2 linked regions of the Homo sapiens genome follow. The protein of the gene in region 2 interacts with the protein of the main gene of each other region in a biochemical or structural test. Each region holds a gene or a part of one and is shown on either strand. Other genes may lie near its edges. The genes, in order: OGDH and DLD.

Region 1 (10,239 bases), about 63 Mb from region 2:
TGAACCATCTCTGGCCCAATCAGGCCCCCTATACTGTGTGCAACAGCTCACTGTCTGAGTACGGCGTGCTGGGTGAGTGCCTGGAGCCACACCACCAGGGCCTGTCACCCACCCACCCCCGCTGGGCCTACTGGCTGGTGTCCTGGACATGGTTTTCTCCTTCCTTTGTCCCTTGTAGGCTTTGAGCTGGGCTTCGCCATGGCCAGTCCTAATGCCCTGGTCCTCTGGGAAGCCCAATTTGGTGACTTCCACAACACGGCCCAGTGTATCATCGACCAGTTCATCTGCCCGGGACAAGCCAAGTGGGTGCGGCAGAATGGCATCGTGTTGCTGCTGCCCCATGGCATGGAGGGCATGGTGAGCCTCTGGCCCTTCCCTGCCAGACCTAGGACTTGGGAAGGGCCTGTGTAGGACCCTGACCCCAAAGACTGGCACGAGAGCCAGTGGCTCACACCAGCCTCCTAAGGACTCTGCTGGTGCTTCCCATCCATCTCAGATGGGATGTCACTTCAGAAAGCCAGAGTAGCCCATCTGGATGTGGCTAGCATGCCCCGTCCCTGCTGGTGCAGACTCCCTAGATGCACAGGCGTCCAAGTGTGGAAATGATGAGCCAAGTGCTTTGCTGGTGGGAGGGGGAAGGAACTGAACCCTGCCATCAAGAAAAAAGATAACCAGAAATGAGCTAGTTGGTTGAGGAGGAACAGCAGATGCGGCAAATGTCAGTACGCAAGAGCTCTTAAACTGTAACTTGCGTGTGTGGTTCCAGGGTCCAGAACATTCCTCCGCCCGCCCAGAGCGGTTCTTGCAGATGTGCAACGATGACCCAGATGTCCTGCCAGTGAGTAATACAGGCCCTGTCAGCCCAGCCATTCTCGGGGTGTCTGGTGGGAAACCTGGGGAAGAGCAATCTATCTGGTCATCCTGAAGTGGCAGACCGTGCCTCTGTCCCTTTCTCCATCCTGGGGAGCTCACGTGAGTGGACAGGTGTGGCCCCATGCTTCTGGGCGCCCTGGGATGAGAGACTTCCTCAGAGCACAGAGGAAGGTGCAGGGACTGCCTCCATTGGCTTCCTGCTGTTGCTGCAAGCACAGAAACGCCATGTGAGCTCCTCAGCAAGGGCTCCTGCGGGATGCTTCCAGACCCTGATTCAGGTCTGGAAGCCCTGAGGAGGAGAGAACTTTGGGGCGATTCCAGTGAAACTTTAAGAACTCAAAGAACCAGCCTGGGCAACATGGTGAGACCCCGTCTCTACAAAAATTTTAAAAAGTAGCTGGGCGTGATGGTGCACGCCTGCAGTCCCAGCTACTTGGGAGGCTGAGGTGGGAGGATTGCTTGAGCTTGGGAGGTCAAGGCTGCAGTGAGCCAAGATCGTGCCACTGCACTCCAACCTGGGTGACAGAGCAATACCCTGTCTTAAAAAAAAAAAAAAAAAGAACTGTGCTGGGTGTGGTGGCTCAAGCCTGAAATCCCAGCACTTTGGGAGGCCCAGGCAGGCGGATCATGAGGTCAGGAGTTTGAGACCAGCCTGGCCAATATGGTGAAACCCTGTCTTTACTAAAAATACAAAAACTAGCTGGGCATGGTGGCGCCCACCTGTAATCCCAGCTAGTCTGAGGCTGAGGCAGGAGAATTGCTTAAACCCGGGAAGCAGAGGTTGCAGTGAGCCAAGATTGTGCCGCTGCACTCCAGCCTGGGCAGCTCCGTCTCACAAAAAAAGAACTGGCCAGGCGCAGTGGCTCACGCCTGTAAGCTCAACACTTTGGAGGCCCAGGCAGGTGGATCACGAGGCCAGGAGTTTGAGACCACCCTGGCCAATATAGTGAAACCCCGTCTCTACTAAAAATACAAAAATTATTCAGGCGTGGTGGCGGGCACCTGTAGTCCCAACTACTCAGGAGGCTGAGGCAGAGAATCGCTTGAACCCGGGAGGTGGAGGTTGCAGTGAGCCAAGATTGCGCCACTGCACTCCAGCCTAGGCGACAGAGGGAGACTCCTGTCTCAAAAAAAAAAAAAAAAAAAAAAAACTCAAAGAAAATGATTAGGTGTCAGTGTCTAAGGAAAATTGGTTTTAGGTAGAACTTGTGTCTCTTAAAGTGGTATTTGTTTCATGCTGGGCAATAGCTTTCAGAGAAATAGTATGGATTGAGTGGGACTGAGGCTCTCCTCCAGGGTATGAGGCTGGCCGAAGGAGCTTGCTGGACTCACTTGTTAGTGTCAGCTTATGTCTCCTGGGGAGTCAGTGTGTTAGGCCATTCTTGTGTTGCTATAAAGAAAAACCTGAGACTGGGTAATTTATAAAGAAAAGTTTAATTGGCTCACAGTTCTGTAGGCTGTACAGGAAGCATGATGCTGGCATCTGCTCAGCTTCTGGGGAGGCCTCAGGAAGCTTACAATCATGACAGAAGATGAAGTGGGAGAGCAGGCATGTCACATGGCCAGAGCAGGAGTAAGAGAGTGGGGGAGAGGGGCCACACACTTTCAACAACCAGATCTCGTGTGAACTCAGAGTGAGAGCTCACTCATCACCAAGGGGATGGCCCAAGCTCTAATCCTAACACCTCCCACCAGGCCCCACCTCCAGCAGTGGGAGATTACAATTCAACATGAGATTTGGGCAGGGACAAATATCCAAACTAGATCACCTGAGGGCCCCCACATGCCCCAGAAGACTCAGTGCTGTGTCCTGGCCTCTGGCCATTTCCTTCCCTGCTGCAGGACCTTAAAGAAGCCAACTTCGACATCAATCAGCTATATGACTGCAATTGGGTTGTTGTCAACTGCTCCACTCCTGGCAACTTCTTCCACGTGCTACGACGCCAGATCCTGCTGCCATTCCGGAAGCCGGTCAGTGGCAGGGCCTCCCTTGCTCAAACGAGGCCTGGCCCTGCCCTGTTGGTGCAGGGAAGGGCTCCTCAGAGAGCCTCTTGCTTGGGGTTAGCTAGGTGGGCACCTGCAGGGGTAGTGTGGACAGGACATGGTGTCAGGGAGCCTCGCCCTTCCTCCTCACTGCTGCCATGAGGGAACTGCGTGTTCTGTGTGTCCTCTTCCCCGACTGGGCCCCTGCATACTGCTGAGCACCACATGCGGAGCAATCACATAGGCTGCAGGCCCCAGCCCGGTGGGGAGGACGGATGTTTGAACAGGTGGTCATAGGGGGTGTGCTGAGCTCTGGAAGAGAGGTGAGCCCTGGCAGAGGCCAAGGGAGTGCAGGGTCCCCAGGGAGCGGCTCCTGAGCTGGGTGTTGAAGGGTGAGTAGAAGTTGAGTGGAGGGATACGTTGGAGAAGTGATTCATAAAAAGGAAGGAGGCCGGGCGAGGTGGCTCACGCCTGTAATCCCAGCACTTTGTGAGGCCGAGGCAGGTGGATCATGAGGTCAGGAGATGGAGACCATCCTGGCTAGCACAGTGAAACCCCGTCTCTACCAAAAAAAATACAAAAAAATTAGCCGGGCATGACAGCGGGCACTTGCAGTCCCAGCTACTTAGGAGGCTGAGGCAGGAGAATAGGAGAATAGCGTGAACCCGGGAGGCGGAGCTGGCAGTGAGCCGAGATCGCACCACTGCACTCCAGCCTGGGCAACAGAGCGAGACTCCGTCTCAAAAAACAAAAAAAAGGAAGGAGTGTGGGGGACAGCGAGGGAGTGCCCTGCTGCCCTGGGATACCGCGGGGGTGGGAGTATGGGGTGGAGGCTTGCAGCTCGGAGTGTCCCCAGCAGTCCAAGGGCCCACAGGGCAGGACAGCCCTGGTGCTTCTTGGTGCTGGGCCATGTCACAGCCTTACATGGGCTTTGGGTGCATTTGCTCTGAGACTGCCAAGGAGAGGGTCAGAGCTCTTTCCTAGGTACAGAGAAGCAGGGAAGGGAGTATTGGGAGTCCGAGCAGGCTGGGATGGGCCCTGCCAGGAGTGGATACCCAGCTAGGGGAGGTGAACAGCAGGGAAATTGGTCATCTTTCCTTTTCCCTCCTTCTCTGCCTCTTCTGACCTGAGGCTCCTGTTGAGTGGGAGGGCAGGTGTGTTTCATGGCCTGAAGGTCAAGGCTTGGGTAGCCTTGCTTTTGACCTTCCTTCTGGAATCTTCAGAATCTGATCCTTCACGAGCCTATTGTTCTGTATTTCAGTTAATTATCTTCACCCCCAAATCCCTGTTGCGCCACCCCGAGGCCAGATCCAGCTTTGATGAGATGCTTCCAGGTGGGTGTGAGGGAGATGGGCATTTCCTTGGGGGAAGCTATGTTTGGGGCTTCTTTGCTGCTGCTCTTTTACAGCTCATGGGACTGACATTTGTGATTCTCACTGGCTCTTGCCAGATTTTTGGTTGTAAAGACCCGTGATACATGGCTGGGCACAGTGGCTCACGCCTGTAATCCCAGCACTTTGGGAGGCCGAGGCAGGCAGATCATCTGAGGTCAGGAGTTCGAGGGCAGATCACCTGAGGTCGGGAGTTCGAGACTAGCCTGACCAACATGGAGAAACGCCATCTCCACTAAAAATACAAAATTAGCCAGGCGTAGTGCCACATGTCTGTAATCCCAGCTACTCAGGAGGCTGAGGCAGGAGAATTGCTTGAACCCAGGAGGTGGACGTTGCAGTGAGCTGCTATCACGCCATTGCACTCCAGCCTGGGCAATAAGAGCAAAACTCCGGCACAAAAAAAAAAAAAAAAGTCCCATGATACCAGATGAGGGAGGTCACAGCTTACATTCACGTTGGTCAAATGACATGTCTTAACATGCAGCCCAGGAGCTGTTGCCTCTCACCTGCAAATGCCCCCAAGGACTCCACTAGAGGCAATTAAGTATGTCCAAGATTGAGGGTTAGTGCCGCTGCCTGCGGCCTCCTTCAGCAGGTGAGTGGCAGCTCACCACTGGCTCAGAGGCCCAGCCCCAAAGCAAGCCCTTCAGGACAGAGAAAAAAACACTGGACGGCAGGTCCTGCCAAGTCACATGCCAGCTGCACTTGTGTGAAGGGAGACCCATAACATTGAGATTTCTATAGGGACAGTGGAGTGCAGGATGTTGACACAGCCTTTACCACCCACCAGGGGTCACCAGGCCAGGAAGCCTGCATCCCACCAGTCACCAAACCCCCTTTAGTCTTCAATCAAGGTGAGCCCCTTGTTTTTTGGGGGTTTTTTCCCAATCTTTTTTTATTTTTAATTTTATTTATTTATTTATTTATTTATTTTTGAGACGGAGTCTCGCTCTATCGCTCAGGCTGGAGTGTGGTGGCACAATCTCGACTCACTGCAAGCTCCACCTCCCGGGTTCACGCCATTCTCCCACCTCAGCCTCCCAAGTAGCTGGGACTGCAGGCGCCCGCCACCACGCCTGGCTAATTTTGTTTTTGTATTTTTAGTAGAGACGGGGTTTCACCGTGTTAGCCAGGATGGTGTCAATCTCCTGACCTCATGATCCACCCATCTTGGCCTCCTAAAGTGCTGGGATTACAGGCATGAGCCACCATGCCCAGCCCCCAGTCTTTTTTTATTATGGTAAAATACACAACATAAAATTTACCATTTTGACCATTTTTAAGTATCCAGTTCAGTGTGTTACTGCCTCTATAAATTTGACTACTCTATGGAACTCATAAGTGAAATCATACAGTCTTTGTCCCTTGCGACTGGCTTGTTTCATTTAGTATAATGTCTGCGAGGTCCATCCATGTTGTGTAGCATGTGTCAGAATTTCTTTTTTTTTAAGACTGAATAGCCAGGCATGGTGGCTCATGCCTATAATCCCAGCACTTTGGGAGTTCGAGGCAGGTGGATCACTTGAGGTCACAAGTTTGAGACGAGCCTGGCCAACAGGGTGAAACCCCGTCTCTATTAAAAATACAAAAATTAGCAGGGTGTGGTGGTGCACGCCCTGCTACTCTGGAGGCTAAGGCAGGAGAATTGCTTGAACCCGGGAGGCAGAGGTTGCAGTGAGCTGAGATTGCACCACTGCACTACAGCCTGGGCAACAGAGTAGGACTCCATCTCAAAACAAAACAAAACAAAAAAGACTGAATAGGCTGGGCCCAGTGGCTTACACCTGTAATCTCAGCACTTTGGGAGGCTGAGGCAGGTCGATCACTTGAGGTCACGAATTTGAGACCAGCTTGACCAATATGATGAAACCCCATCTCTACGAAAAATACAAAAATTAGCTGGGCATGGTGGCGCGCACCCGTAATCCCAGCTACTCAGGATGCTGAGGCAGGAGAATTGCTTGAACCTGGGAGGCAGAGGTTGCAGTGAGCCAAGATTGCGCCACTGCATTCCAGCCTGGGTGACAGAGACTCCGTCTCAAAAAAAATAAATAAATAAACTAGCCGGGGGTGGTGGCGCATACCTGTAATCCCAGCTACTCAGGAGGCTGAGGCAGGAGAATCACTTGAACATGGGAGGCAGAGGTTGTGGTGAGCCAAGATCACGCCGTTGCACTCCAGCCTGGACAACAAGAGCGAAACTCCGTCTCAAAAAAAAAAAAAGACTGAATAATACTCCATTATATGTGTATGCCACATTTTGCTCATCCATTCATCTGTCGATGGACACTTGGGTTGCTTCCATGTTTCAGCTATTATGATTAGAGGAGCTGCTATGAACATTGGTGTACAAATATTTCTTTGAGTCCCTGCTTTCAGTTCTTTTGAATATGTACTCAGAAGTGGAATTGCTGGACCATATGGTAATTCTATTTTTAGTTTTTTGAGGAACTGCCAAACTTTCCACAGTGGCTGCATTTTACATCCCACCAACAGTATATGAGGATCCCACCATCTCTACATCCTCATCAGCACCTACTATTTTCTGGTTTTTTCATAGTAGCCATCTTAATGGGTGTGAGATGATATTTCATTGTGGCTTTGATTTATATTTCTGTAATGATTAAGTGATGTTGAGCATCTTTTCATATGCTTATTGGCCACTTGTATATCTTCCTTGGAGAACTGTCTATTAAAATCCTTTTTTTTTTTAATTTAATTTTTTTTAAGAGACAGGATCTCTCTATGTTGCCCAGGCTAGTCTTGAACTCCTGGGCTCAAGGAATCCTCCTACTTTGGCCTCAAAGTATTGAGATTACAGGCATGAGCCACGGTACCCAGCCTATTCAAATTATTTGCCCATTTTTGAATCTGGTTGCTTGTTTTTGAGTCTTAAGAGTTCTCTGTATATTCTAGATATTAATTCCTTATCAGAAATATAATTTGCAAATATTTTCTCCCGTTCTATGGGTTGTTCTTTTATTCTGTTGTTAGTATCTTTGGTTTTGGTTTTGGGTTTGGGTGTTTTTTTTGTTTGTTTTTTGTTTTTTTCCGAGATGGAGTCTTACTCTGTTACCCAGGCTGGAGTGCATTAGTGCAATCTCAGCTCACTGCAACCTCTGCCTCCCAGGTTCAAGTGATTCTCCTGCCTCAGCCTCCCAAGTAGCTGGGATTACAGGCGCACGCCACCATGCCTAGCTAATTTTTGTATTTTTAGTATAGACAGGGTTCCACCATGTTGACCAGGCTGGTCTTGAACTCCTGACCTCAGGTGATCTGCCCACCACAGCCTCCCAAAGTGCTGGGATTACAGGCGTGAGGCACTGCACCTGGCCTGTTGTTAGTATCTTTTGATGTACAAAAGTTTTTAATTTTCTTTTTTTTTTTTTTTTTTTGAGACGGAGTCTCGCTCTGTCGCCCAGGCTGGAGTGCAGTGGCGGGATCTCGGCTCACTGCAAGCTCCACCTCCCGGGTTCACGCCATTCTCCTGCCTCAGCCTCCCAAGTAGCTGGGACTACAGGCGCCCGCCACTACGCCCAGCTAATTTTTTGTATTTTTAGTAGAGACGGGGTTTCACCGTTTTAGCCGGGATGGTCTCGATCTCCTGACCTCGTGATCCGCCCGCCTCGGCCTCCCAAAGTGCTGGGATTACAGGCGTGAGCCACCGCGCCCGGCCAAGTTTTTAATTTTCATGAAGTCAGATTTGTCTATTTTTTCTTCAGTTGCCTGTGACTTTGGTGTCATATCTAAGAAATCATTACCAAATTCAGTGTTGTGAAACTTTTGCCCTATGTTTTCTTCTGAGTTTTATAGTTTTTGCTCTTATGTTTAGATCTTTGACCCACTTTGAGCTAATTTGTTTTGTTTTTTATTTTTTGTTTGTGTTTTTTTGAGACAGAGTCTCACTCTGTCATCCAGGCTGATGCAATCGTAGCTCACTGCAGCCTCAATTCCTGGGCTCAAGTGATCCTCCTACTTTGGCCTCCCAGAGTACTGGGATTACATGTGTGAGCCACTGTGCCCAGACTTTTATTCTGTTTGTATCATAAATGGAATTGTTGGCCTAATTTCCTCTTCTTATTGTTCATTGTTAGTGTATAGAAACACAACTGGTTTTGGTTACGTGCATATGATGCGTAGTGCTTAAGTCAGGGTATTAGGGTGTCCGTCACCCGAGTACGATACATGTTTGTTAACCTTACTCCTTTATCAAACGTTGAACTTAATTCCTTCTATCTAACTGTATGTTTGTACCATTCAACCCACTTTTCTATATTTTTTTGAGATAGATTCTTACCCTGTCACCCAGGTTGGAGTGCAGAGGCATGGTCATCATGGTTCACTGTAACCTCTGCCTCCCAGGCTAGAGTGATTCTCCCACCAAAGCCTCCCAAGTAGCTGGGAACACAAGGTGTGCACCACCGTGCCTGGCTAATTTTTGTACTTTTGTAGAGACGGAGTATCACCATGTTGCCCAGGCTGGTCTCGAACTCCTGAGCTCAAGGGATCCTCCTGCCTCAGCCTCCCAAAGTGCTGGCCAACCCACTGTTCTCTATCTGAATATTTTCTCTGATTGTGTTGAAAGTTTTTATATTTGTAAAATTCTGAGCAGCAGAAACAGAGTAAACATGGGATTTTTTTTATATAATTTTTTTTTTTTTTTGAGATGGAGTTTTGCTCTTGTTGCCCAGGCTGGAGTGCAATGGCGCATTCTTGGCTCACCACAACCTCCGCCTCCCGGGTTCAAGCAATTCTCCTGCCTCGGCCCCCCGAGTAGCTGAGATTACAGGCATGCGCCACCATGCCTGGCTTATTTTGTATTTCTAGTAAAGACAGGGTTTCACCATGTTGGTCAGTCTGGTCTCGAACTCCTGACCTCAGGTGATCCGCCTGCCTCAGCCTCCCAAAGTGCTGGGATTTACAGGCGTGAGCCATGCGCCCGGCTGGTATTTTTTTTTTTTTTTGTCTGGAGATGGAGTCTTGCTCTGTTGCCCAGACTGTAGTGCATGATCTCAGCTCACTGCAACCTCTGCCTCCCGGGCCCAACCGATTCTTCCACCTCAGCCTCCCGAGTAGCTGGGACCACAGGCGCACACCACCATGCCTGGCTCATTTTTTGTATTTTTTTAGTAGAGACGGGGTTTCACCATGTTGCCCAGGCTGGTCTCGAACTCCTGAACTCAGGCAATCCGCCCGCCTCAGCTTCCCAAAGTGCTAGGATTGCAGGCGTGAGCCACCGCACCCGGCCGGGATGTTTTAATAATACTCTTGTCCCCGAAGTCTGAGCCAAGCTGTTTTGAAGGCTAGCCTGGTGTTACTTGATACCCAGAGCTGGCCATGTCTGCTGTGTATTTGTTACACGTAACGTGCTTTTCAAAGTGTGCCTGGTCTGAGCAAATACAGGGCATCAGAGGCTGGTGAAGGGGAAGCATCTCTAACCCTTGAAAGCTGCGTCTCCTGGCAGCAGTCCCTGGCACAGCCCTGGGCCCAGGAGAGCTCTCAGCCACATACCTGAGAGAACCAGCCTAGCCATGGGAACTCTCTTGTAGGAACCCACTTCCAGCGGGTGATCCCAGAAGATGGCCCTGCAGCTCAGAACCCAGAAAATGTCAAAAGGCTTCTCTTCTGCACCGGCAAAGTGTATTATGACCTCACCCGGGAGCGCAAAGCACGCGACATGGTGGGGCAGGTGGCCATCACAAGGATTGAGCAGGTGAGGGCAGGTGGTGCCATCAGGGTGTCCCCCCAGCGGGGGTCAGGGCTCTGGTGCCTTCACAGAACAGCCTTGCTTGGGGTGTGGCCCTCAGGTTCCTGACCTTCCCTGCTCGGAACACCAGTTTCCCTTTGCTGGATCTTGCCTGCCCTCTGAGTTTCCTCTTTTTGATCTGACCCCTGCTGTCTCCTAGCTGTCGCCATTCCCCTTTGACCTCCTGCTGAAGGAGGTGCAGAAGTACCCCAATGCTGAGCTGGCCTGGTGCCAGGAGGAGCA
Region 2 (11,775 bases):
CAAGCTCTGCCTCCTGGGTTCACGCCATTCTCCTGCCTCAGCCTCCCCAGCAGCTGGGACTACAGGTGCCTGCCACCACGCCCGGCTAATTTTTTTTGTATTTTTAGTAGAGACGGGGTTTGGTCTTGATCTCCTGACCTCGTGATCCGCCTGCCTCGGCCTCCCAAAGTGCTGAGGATTACAGGTGTGAGCCACCACACCCGGCCCTGATTTTTTAACTTTATGTATGGGACTCAACCTGTGAAATTATTCTTGACAAGGAGAGGGTGAGTCAGAATCATGTGTTATCAGCTTTCATTTATATGCATCCTTTGGTACAGGTGAGAGGTAGATGATTTGTTTTTCTGACATTTTATTATGAAAAATTATAAGCATTTAGAAAATTATAAGAATTTTACATTGAACACCCATAGTTTTCTTCCATTAACATTTTCTGTGCTTACAGTACCACATATGTGCTCATTCGTTTATCCATCAGTGCAGACGTGTGTATACTTCCCCTAAATACTGGTTTGTTTTTGAAAGTTTGTTCCTGGCTTATACCCTCCTGTATTCTCAGTTGACAGATCTTTACATAAAGAGTCTGCTTTTTTCTCATTTTTGTGCATCTTAGCACTTTAGTGGTATTGTAATGGAATATTACATCTAGTATGTACAGTGAGAGAGGAGCTCTTGAATTTTTGGTATTTTCTGAAGTTTAAAAAAAAACACCTAAGATTACATAGTGAATAGGGAAGTAAAACCCAAGGTTTTTGGCTATTATCTTTTATCTCTTGTTTACTTCTCCTGACCTTACTAAAACAAGTTCTTTTCCAAACCAAATTTATTTATCATTTTAGTACCATGGACCTACTATAAGAATTGTTACATATCAGTGATTAAAAGTATATGCTCAAAAATACATATACTTAAAATCTAAAATATTTAATTCAGTTTTATTGTCATTAAAAGGGTTTTTGGAGAATTATAGCAGTAATATATGTTATAAATATATATGCTCATGTAAGAGTGAGAAAAGAATATAAAATATGGCAAAAATTGAATTTTATAAAAACTTTCCTAGAAGAAGGATTGGGAGGACCTATAAACAGTTCTCTCTGGGCTGTATGGCAATGTGGATGGGTTGTTTTTTTTTTAATTTTGCTTTAGTGTATTTAAATTTATTCAGTAAACCTAAATTTTTAATCAGAAAAGACATTAAAAATTCAGCAAAGAAACCTGTTTTGTAGCTTGTATTTACATTACTCTGAAATTAAAAATTAGAACCCATTTAAGGGATGTTGTGTAGATCGTCATTTGGTTCAAGATTTGAAAATAAAAATACATTTTATTAGATACTTAATTCTGAACCGAAATCAGTGAACCAAGCAGGGTGGCTAAAAAGCACAGATGGATCAGTAAAAATTGAAGCAATTTTTCATGTATTGAAATGACTATACATATTTTTTCATGTATTATCTCAATTATCATCTGCTATAACCAAAGAGAATCTAGTATTTTCATTTATTCAACAGGAGGGATTCTTAGATTTTGTGGATAATTGGGCTGAGTAACTTAGTTATCCACCAACACAGAGGTTCTGTGATTCTGTTCAGGCCAGCAAAGGTTTTTTGAATGATCCTACTCTAGGGATGTGTGTTTTTGGGGAGAGGGGGTGATGCAAATTAAAATAGTCTTCTTTGTAGGTCAGAATATAGCTACTATGTATAGAATACTTATTATGTATGCTATAGGTACTATGCTAAATTATTTACATACATTATTTTATTCTGTTATCACCCTATGAAGTAGGTTTTTTTTGTGGTCTTTCTTTTGCCAGGTATGGAAACAAAGATGAAGCAGGTTAAATTACTCACCTAAGGTCACATAGGTAGTGATTATAAAGCTTGATTATTGCTCTCTGGAATTTTAGTTTATGATGGTTAAAACTGAGGAATGGAATAGTATTGAATAATGGAAAGACCACCGGAAGTAGAGTCAAAAAGCTTAGTTTGTCTCTGCAACTCACTTGCTGGTTAACCTTAGACAAGTTAATTGACCTCTCTGAACTTCTTGTTTATTCTGTGAAATGTCTTATTTATGACATCTTTATCTTCCTCATAGGAAATTCTGAGACTCAAACATGATAATATATGTGAATATGTGTTATGAATTGCTAAATGCTAGACTAGTTGGGGTTGTCAGGACAGTGGAAGGGGAAGAAAAGGGAGACTGTTTCCTAACTCTTAACAGTCACTGTTACTTTATTTGAAGTTGGATTGAGAAGAATGGGAGTAATTGGACTTACTTGCACATTTGTATTACAATTGTTAAACTCCTAAGGATACTGATCAAAATTAATTTTCAATTTTTTATCTTTATTTGAAAAATGGCCACAATAGTTAATTGAATATTCTGGTTAGCCTATTATCTTAAGGTATGTAAAAATTATCAATATGCAAGTACAAAACATATTTGTTAAATATTACATAGAAGCTGTTTTTTCCCTCATATTTCAGAAGTTAAGGACCTGAAAAAGGTAATAGGTCTTAAATTTATTGGAAATACTAAAGCATTATATAAAATTATCTTATTTAATTCTAACATCAATCATTGAAGGCAGTGTTTTCATCCCCATATTACAGAAAGGTTAAGTCATTGGGTCAAGTTCATACAACTACTCATTGGCCGTGCTGAGATATGAAGCCCAGAATGTCAGATTCCAAAGCTCAGGCTCTTTGCTTCATACATACTTGTCTTCCAGTATCACTAAATTCCGTCAGTTATTAAATCAATAGAATTTAGGAAGGTCAGTGAATACAATGTGAGTGTTACAGAACTCAGTTGTGTTTCTGTATGTTGTAATGAATAGAAAATAATAGAAAATGAAATTTGAGTATTTATGCCATTTTTCAGTAGCATCAAAGAGCATCAAGTAGTAGTAATAAAATAGTGCAGAAACTATGTAGAAAATGCTGATTTGTACTGTAAGAGGTTTAAGTATCGGGTTATTTGTTTGCTCTTCCAAAGAGCTCTTTTTGGTAAATATTAAGCAATTTACTATTTTATATCAATTTGCTTTTATCGTAGTTGATGCTGATGTAACAGTTATAGGTTCTGGTCCTGGAGGATATGTTGCTGCTATTAAAGCTGCCCAGTTAGGCTTCAAGGTAAGGTTTGAACTCAAACTAAGTATTGATTTATTTTAATTTGGGAAGGGTTGATCATATTTATAAAGTACTTTGCAGGCAAAAACATGGTAAATACTTCCTTAACTCTATAAATTACTTGTAAGCCTGAGACTAATAAAGATTAGGTTCATTTGGTTGTAGTATTCTCTTGGAATGGAAAGTGAAATCTATTAGTTTTCTTCTCTTCCCAGTACTTTTCATTTTGGCATCTAATCACACTTTGGAAGATACAGTGATAGAACTAAAAGCATATATTTGGTAATGTTAAGCACACAAAAATATCTTTTAGAATAATTCACTTTTGGGTCAGCCCAAAAGTGTTTATTATTATTCAAATGATAAATTATAAAGGACTATATATTTTAGTCTGTGAAAACATAGCCCGAATAGCTTGTTTTGTAGAAGAATTAAGACATATATTTGGAATTTTAGTGATCTGAAACATTGAGGTTATGTGCAGTTAAATAATGTTTTCTTTGGTTGTAGACAGTCTGCATTGAGAAAAATGAAACACTTGGTGGAACATGCTTGAATGTTGGTTGTATTCCTTCTAAGGTGAGCATGTGTTTTGTACAGCACAGAGATTGTTTTTGGCTAGCAACCAACTAGAAGGATGGATTGAGACTAGATTAGACAAATACACTTGTTAAAAAACAATCCAAGTTGTGGCACATTTCACACAGAGAAAAAAAAGAATGATAAAAAACACACTTCTCTTTTGTAAAACTTAAAGAGTGCTGTCACTAGTCTGCCACACATTCCTGAAATAACTTCCTTGTCTCAGAATGCCTAGCTTTCCATTCAAACAGACTCTGATGTTCTAGTTTTTTCTCTTTATCTTTCCTTCACCAGTGTAACAGATAATAGATAGTAAATTGTTCTTTTAGGTCCTTTTTGTATGTAAACATGACTGCCTTTTTCACCTGCCACCCTGAAGTGTGTACTTATGCCTTTACTTTTAAAGAAAGTAAAAATGTCTTTTTCATTCTTGTTTGTTGAATGTTTTTCACATCATTATTGTTTGTCTTTGATTAATAAGAGAAACTGAATTGGTGTAGTGCCATATACTATTCCATGTAGAGAATGCCATGTCTTTTTTTTAACTTCTTTTTAAATTTTTATTGTAAATTGACAAATTACAATTGTATATATTTATGGCATACAAAGTGGTGTTATGATTTATGACTATAATGTGGAATAATTTAGTCAAGTTAATTAACATATTCATTACCACAGTACTTATCATTTTTGTGATGAGAACATTTGAAAGAGAATATCGGCCGGGCGCGGTGGCTCACGTCTGTAATCCCAGCACTTTGGGAGGCCGAGGCGGGTGGATCACCTGAGGCTGGGAGTTTGGGACCAGCCTGACCAACATGGAGAAACCCCATCTCTACTAAAAATACAAAATTAGCCAGGCGTGGTGATGCATGCCTGTAATCCCAGGGACAATTGCTTGAGCCCGGGAGGCGGAGGTTGCGGTGAGCTGAGATGGCGCCATTGCACTCCAGCTTGGGCAATAAGAACGAAACTCCGTCTCAAAAAATGAAAAGAAAGACTATCATTTCATAAGTGCTTTTTGATTATTTGAAGTCTGTTTATGAATATTTGATAATTTGATCTTTTTAATTTCCTTTAGGCTTTATTGAACAACTCTCATTATTACCATATGGCCCATGGAAAAGATTTTGCATCTAGAGGAATTGAAAGTAAGTATACTTTTCATGCTTAATGATATTACCAGACTGCTTGACTTGGCTCTTCTGTCTAAAGACTTAAATGTGTCTAACGTACGCATAATAGATGTTTAGTGAAGGAAGAGTAAAATAAATAATCTAAAAAATGTGGAGAGATTTACTTAAAAAAGAAGGCCTAAATCCAGATTTCTCCCAGCCAAGTATAACCAAGCCTAACCCTGCAAATCCAGATTTCTACCATTATATCTTCTGTTCCTTTGCCAACTTTTTCCTGAGGTTTGCCTTTATGTGTTTTTGAAGAGTCAGTTTTCATTTCCTAAAATCTGGAAATCACTGAGAAGGCTGGATTCCTGAGTACTATGGGGAGATAGAGGAAGGAAGGAAGGCCCACTTAAGCTGTTGATAGTAGAAAAATTAGAGGAGAGAAAGAGTGAGGCATAGCGGAAAAGGAAGAGGACATTTCATAACGTATCTTGTCTCCTGACATACTTTTTGAGCTGTTTTAATCTTTTGTCTCCAATTATTGTTGTTGTTAGATACTTCCAGAAAGGTAGTCTCTTCTGGGCAGGACCTAGTCATAACCTTGGGTTGTTACTTTTCCTTCATTTGTTTCTTTACAGAGGTAGGTTTGAGGGGCTACTTAAGGCAATCCATTGGGTATAGAGATGATGTATATGCACTAAAGCAAATAGAATATCATACTAGTTGAAAAATGGAATGACGTAAAGAAAGAAGAGCTAGGGGTAGTCAGGAGACCTGCATTGTAGGCAAGGCTTTTACATCCTAGCTCTGTGACCTTGGGTAAATCAGAAATCTCTCAGAGTCTCTTTTTCCTTATCTCTAATATATGTGTTGGTTATATGAGGTACTTTCTAAGATACCCTTCTTACCTCTAAAGTTTAATTGAGTTGAGCATTTTTATCTAATACTGTTGCTTCAGAGTTCTCTTCTGAGTTGAATGAGTGATTAAAACCTAGGTGATTAAACTTTTTAATGTTAAGCTTCTGTATTTGAAATTTTTAAACGTGTATTTTTTATTTGTTTTGTTTCATGAAATCTAGCATTTTCCTTTATTTAAAATTTCAGATGATGTTTTACTTTGTCATTTCTACTTACATATCTTCCAGACTTATAACCATCGTAAAGTGTTCAGAGGATATGTTATCACAGTGGGATATAATGTTTTATTTTGGACTGCCTTTTTACCCAAGGTAGACATTTTATAGTGTTTGATAGGTTCTGTTTCTGTGATACAATGATGTTGGCCTTTTGTCAACTATAATTATAAGTTATTACATTTTGAAACTTTAATACTGCCTTTTATAAGCATTAGGTTGAAATTTTCCAGTTGGTGAGTGAAAAACACTGCATATTGCTTCAAGAATTTAGCTAAGAACTAAAGATTAATTGAACAAATTACAGTGTCCGAAGTTCGCTTGAATTTAGACAAGATGATGGAGCAGAAGAGTACTGCAGTAAAAGCTTTAACAGGTGGAATTGCCCACTTATTCAAACAGAATAAGGTCAGTGTTTAATATTCAGATTTCTGCTTTACTTTGAATACAAATTAAACTTTGCATTATAGAGTGATGATATTTGAACTTGGTTACAGGGGAATATTTATTTAATTTAAAATAGCTTGCTAACCTGAAATAGATTTCCCTGACATATATCACAGATTTTTTTGCTGCACCATGGTGTAGCATTACTAAGTAAGGAAGCATTTTGTTTTAGATAAATTATTTACAGAGTAATTTTTCCTTTGAATGATTTATCAAACAAATTACTTTAAACTTTGTGAATTTATAAAGATTATTTTGTAAAGGTTGTTCATGTCAATGGATATGGAAAGATAACTGGCAAAAATCAAGTCACTGCTACGAAAGCTGATGGCGGCACTCAGGTTATTGATACAAAGAACATTCTTATAGCCACGGGTTCAGAAGTTACTCCTTTTCCTGGAATCACGGTATTTATGCTTCATAATTTACAACCATTACAACTTTTCTTTAGAAATACGTTTTATAAGTTATTTATGCTATTTGTGAACTTTGAGAGATTTCTGACTGAAATACTATATTTTGATGGTCATTCAGCTTTGGGAAGTTACCTGTCTTTATTCTGCAGTGATTCTGACCAGCTATAGAACACTTTATATTAAGATATGTTTGAATACAGTATGAAGTTAAAATTGACCATTGCGTTTGGAATATTGGTGGATAAAATTTAAAGTCAGTGTTTTTAATGGGATTTGATGAAATTAGGTATATAGATACCTCAAAACAAATAAATGACTTAGTATTTTTAGTGATTCTACTGAGATCACAGTTTATAAATACATTTATCTCTTCATATCCTTGGAGGATTGGTTCCAGGACCCCCCTTGGATACCAAAACCCACAGATGCTCAAGTGCCTTACATAAAATGACATAGTATTTGCATATAATCTGCATACTTCCTCCTGTATACTTTAAGTCATCTCTGGATTACTTATAATACCTAATACACTGTAAATGCTATGCAAGTAGTTCCTATGCTGTATTGTTTAGGGAATAATGACAAAAAAACCATGTGTACATGTTCAGTACAGATGCAACCATCAATTTTTTTCCTGAATATTTTCAATTAATGGTTGGTTAAATCTGCAAATTTGGAACCCATGGATATGGAGGGTCGACTGTACTAGGTTTTTTCAAATTATTTTGATTATATCTTTTGTTTTTCTTACAGATAGATGAAGATACAATAGTGTCATCTACAGGTGCTTTATCTTTAAAAAAAGTTCCAGAAAAGATGGTTGTTATTGGTGCAGGAGTAATAGGTGTAGAATTGGTAAGTGTTGTCTTTCTGCCTCTTATTACCTCCTTGGAGTTGGAAGGGACTTAAAGGTCCCCTTTTTGATTTTTTGTATAACATTACAGGCTGATCAGCATTGAGTTTTGCTTAAACACTTCTAGTAATAAAGAGTTTACTTTTGTTTTTTTCAAGACAACCTATTTATGTATTTACTCATTTAGAATGTTCTCCTTTATTTTAGTCTGTTTCCTTGTACCTTCCACCCTTCCATTTCCTAGAACTGGTCGAATTCTTTTTTAATATGACAGCCATTCAGATATTTGAGGACAGCTTTTATCCTGGGCAAATTGCATTCCAAATAAAGATTATTCTCTTTACCATCACATACATGATTTGGCTCTTCCCTTCTCTATCCTCATCTTGATGCCTCTTAACTTAGGTTTTAGAAATGTCAAACTACTTGCATTTCTTTGAACACCATGTTATTTTAGACCTTCTGTCTGCCTTGTTCTCCCTTCTTGTCCATCTGGCAGCTTTCCACACATTTCCAATGACCTCCCTCCATTTTAGAGTCACTGTGCCTTGTAAACACCAGGAATTGCTCTACTTCTGAAATAATAAATTCAGATATTTTATTATGTAACCATGACCTCCTTTCCTCTTTTACTCAGTTATTCATAGTGTACTTTGTACCCTTTTTTAGGTTTTCTAGTCCATAGATCTACTTTTTTGCAATCTTCCCTTTCCAATCTTGACTGCGTTCCTGATCAGCTTAGATGCCATAGTCCATCACTTTAACCACACTCTTACAGATGTCCTTGAGTTGCTTGTCTCACTGTTCTGTCATATCTGCTTGGCAAAACTCTAGTTCGGTTTGAATGCAGCAGTCTGCCTTTTTTATGCTATTTCCAGGCTGTTGACTACACCTGGAGAAAAACACACCCTACTCATTGGTACTTGTATTAATTCTTGGCACAAACCTTAACAAGAACCTCAGCCTTGCTGACAGTTTATTATTTCCTAAGATGGTACACTGCCCTGGTCTCTGCAATGGCCATTTTCATTTTCTACTCTTCTCAAATCTCTGCTTGTATACTGTCTGCTCTGCCTGTGGATGACCTTGTCTTTTAAATATTACATAAAAGAGAAATCAGATGAGAACTCCCTCAAGTTGATGTCCTAAATTTGATAATGCTTTTACCTGTTGTTACACCTATCCTTTTGATTACCTCTCCTATTACTGTGGAAATGCCATTTTCCCTAAGACTAATCCCTTTACTTGTGCTTGGTAGCACATCATCTGCCTTTTCAGAGACTTGGTTTTGTGATTTTTATTCTTGTATTTTTCAGTCTTCAAACTCCTTCCTTTTATTTACAATTTCATGTGCTTCTATGTGTGTACCTGTGATGCATTTGCACTCATTAACACAGGTTTGTGTGCACATAAATGCTCCTTATCTTGGTCCCATGTCCTTCTTGAGTTACCAATTTTGTTCGCACTTTTCCTTCAAAACCCAGCTTCTCAAAAGAGTTGTCCATGCTTTATTTCATCAACTTCCACTCACTCAGTCTATGGCTTGTGCCAATAAATTGCTCTTAGGGCATGAATCTATTTATTGCTCAATCTGTTGGACTAATTTCTTCACTGCTTTATTTGGCAGTAATTAGCATTGCTGATTTTCTTGCCTTTGAAACACTTTGCCTAACTTCTGTGATTTCATATTCTTCCATTTTTACATCTGCTCTTTGGGCTGAATTCTCCATATTATGCAAGTTCCCCTTTCTTAGGCTTCCCTTTAATTGTTAGTATTTTTGTTTTTCTTTTTTTTTTTTTTTGAGTCCGAGTCTTGCTGTGTCGCCCAGGCTGGAGTGCAGTGGCGCGATCTCGGCTCACTGCAACTTCTGCCTCCCGGGTTCAAGTGATTCTCCTGCCTCAGCCTCCCAAGTAGCTGAGACTACAGGCGCCCGCCAGCACGCCCGGCTAATTTTTGTATTTTTAGTAGAGACGGGGTTTCACCATATTGGTCAGGCTGGTCTCGAACTCCTGACCTTGTGATGCGCATGATGGTTCATGTCTATAATCCCAGCACTTTGGGAGGCTGAGGCAGGCAGATTGCTTAAGCCCAAGAGTTTGAGACTAGCCTGGGCAACAATGTGAGAACTTATCTCTAAAAAAATGTAAAAAATTAGTTGGGCATGGTGGTGTGTGCCTGTAGTCCCAGCTACTCAGGAGGTTGAGATGGGAGAATCACCTGAGCCTGGGAGTTTGAGGCTGTAGTGAGCTGGGTCATGCCAGTGCACTCCATCCTGGGCAAAAGAGTGAGACCCTGTCTCAAAAAAAAAAAAAAACCCCAAAACAAAAATCAGCTTTTAAGTTATCTTTTTAGTGAATAATTCTTTCTTCTAAGAAAGCTCAAGTCTTTCATTTTTTGAGTCCTTAGTATAATATATCTACATTTCCATAGTACCCACTAATAATAATACATTGCATTTGTTTGTCTATGGCTGACTTTCCTATAAGACCAAAGCTCCTTGAAGGCAGGACCGAATTTTTAATTCCTATTTGAATCTCCATTGTTTTTCTTAATGTTTAGTACTTAGGTCTCCTAGACAGCAGGTCTGTTATTTTGTCATCAACCTTTGGATCCTGTCTAGTCCGTTAAGAAAACTTGTAATCTAAACATAATGTTCTGGGTTGTAGAGAGTACTTCTTTTGATATGCATAGTATACTTCTTGTAATGTAATGCTTTGAAATCAGTTTAGTTGTTTTTATAAAGCAGACATTGAGCTTATGTTCAGATAAAAACCACATTTTTTTCGCATTTGGAATTCTGATTTTTTAAACCTAAGTGACTTTGAACCTTTATTCTTGCTTTAATTTAATCTTGTTCACTCATACTCATTATTCCAATCTATATCTTAGTCTTGATTCTGTCACTCTTATACTTAACTGCTTTTACTTTTCATAGTTCGTAAATTTTGGAAGTATGACAATTAAGGCATGCAGTCCCATCATCTGATCTGATCTTGGTTAAGCAAACTTCTGTTGTCATTCACGTCATTAGTACAAATTTTTGACCAGGATGAAACATCGAAAGCCATCTGACAGTACAGTCTTTCACCAGTTATAAACACCTTTGATGTTTATTCATCTTCGTTTCTCCATCTCATCTACAAGGATATCATGAGATTTTCTTAAAATTTTTTTTAACACCTTGCTGATATCAAAATATACTACATTCACCAGTCCAGAAACCCTTCAGAAAGTAAGAGTGGTTTATGTGACCTGTTTGGAACACTTGTGGTAGTGTCTACTGATTGTGAAACCAGCTGATTAATAATGTCTTCTAGTATTTAGCAGAATCTCTTCTTTTCCATTTTTGAAAATTTAGGCATATTTGCCTGTCTGCCACCTTTTGGCAGTTCCCTTGTGCTAAGTAAGTTCCCAGAGTTCACTGAGAGTGCCTGTTTTGTCATACTCTAATTGGGTTGATGGGAGAATTAACTTTTTTTTTTTTTTTTTTTTTTTTTGAGATGGAGTCTCGCTCTGTAGCCCCGGCTGGAATACAGTGGCATGATCTCGGCTCACTGCAGCCTCCACCTCCCAGGTCCCAGTTCAAGCAATTCTCCTGCCTCAGCCTCCTGAGTAGCTGGGATTACAGGCACGCACCACCATACCCAGATAATTTTTCTTTGTATTTTTAGTAGGGACGGGGTTTCACCATGTTGGCCAGGCTGGTCTTGAACTCCTGACCTCATGATCCGTCTGCCTCGGCCTCCCAAAGTGCTGGGATTACAGGCATGAGCCACCACACCCAGCCGGGAATTAACTCTTTAAAAATGACCAGTTGTTCTTAATCTTGGGCGTTGCCTCTTGGTTAATAATATTTCTTCTGTTCATTCTACTTTGTTCTCATAGTTGGATAAAACAAGAAAAAAGGAATAACATTTACTTTCTTTTGTTGGTCATTATAATATCTCGAAGCAATAATTCTATTTCTTCATCTCAGCAGTTTTGCTTTAGGTTTTTTATAAGCCTTGAGTCTTTTGACACAATGATTTAGATACCTGTTACTGTATTGAATTAGTTTTTACATGTCTTTTTAAAAA

What was found.
Region 1: the proteins of DLD (region 2) and OGDH form a complex in vitro, tested with the Homo sapiens proteins (one study listed by BioGRID).

What each region holds. Positions count from the first base shown.
Region 1 is NC_000007.14:44,697,426-44,707,664, forward strand, and holds part of OGDH (2-oxoglutarate dehydrogenase complex component E1 isoform 1 precursor), read left to right. Parts: coding exon 1-72; intron 73-178; coding exon 179-357; intron 358-766; coding exon 767-838; intron 839-2,715; coding exon 2,716-2,844; intron 2,845-4,117; coding exon 4,118-4,190; intron 4,191-9,799; coding exon 9,800-9,963; intron 9,964-10,156; coding exon 10,157-10,239. UniProt on the Homo sapiens protein: 2-oxoglutarate dehydrogenase (E1o) component of the 2-oxoglutarate dehydrogenase complex (OGDHC). Participates in the first step, rate limiting for the overall conversion of 2-oxoglutarate to succinyl-CoA and CO(2) catalyzed by the whole OGDHC.
Region 2 is NC_000007.14:107,898,669-107,910,443, forward strand, and holds part of DLD (dihydrolipoyl dehydrogenase, mitochondrial isoform 1 precursor), read left to right. Parts: intron 1-3,069; coding exon 3,070-3,149; intron 3,150-3,656; coding exon 3,657-3,725; intron 3,726-4,809; coding exon 4,810-4,879; intron 4,880-6,289; coding exon 6,290-6,390; intron 6,391-6,692; coding exon 6,693-6,836; intron 6,837-7,598; coding exon 7,599-7,700; intron 7,701-11,775. UniProt on the Homo sapiens protein: Lipoamide dehydrogenase is a component of the glycine cleavage system as well as an E3 component of three alpha-ketoacid dehydrogenase complexes (pyruvate-, alpha-ketoglutarate-, and branched-chain amino acid-dehydrogenase complex).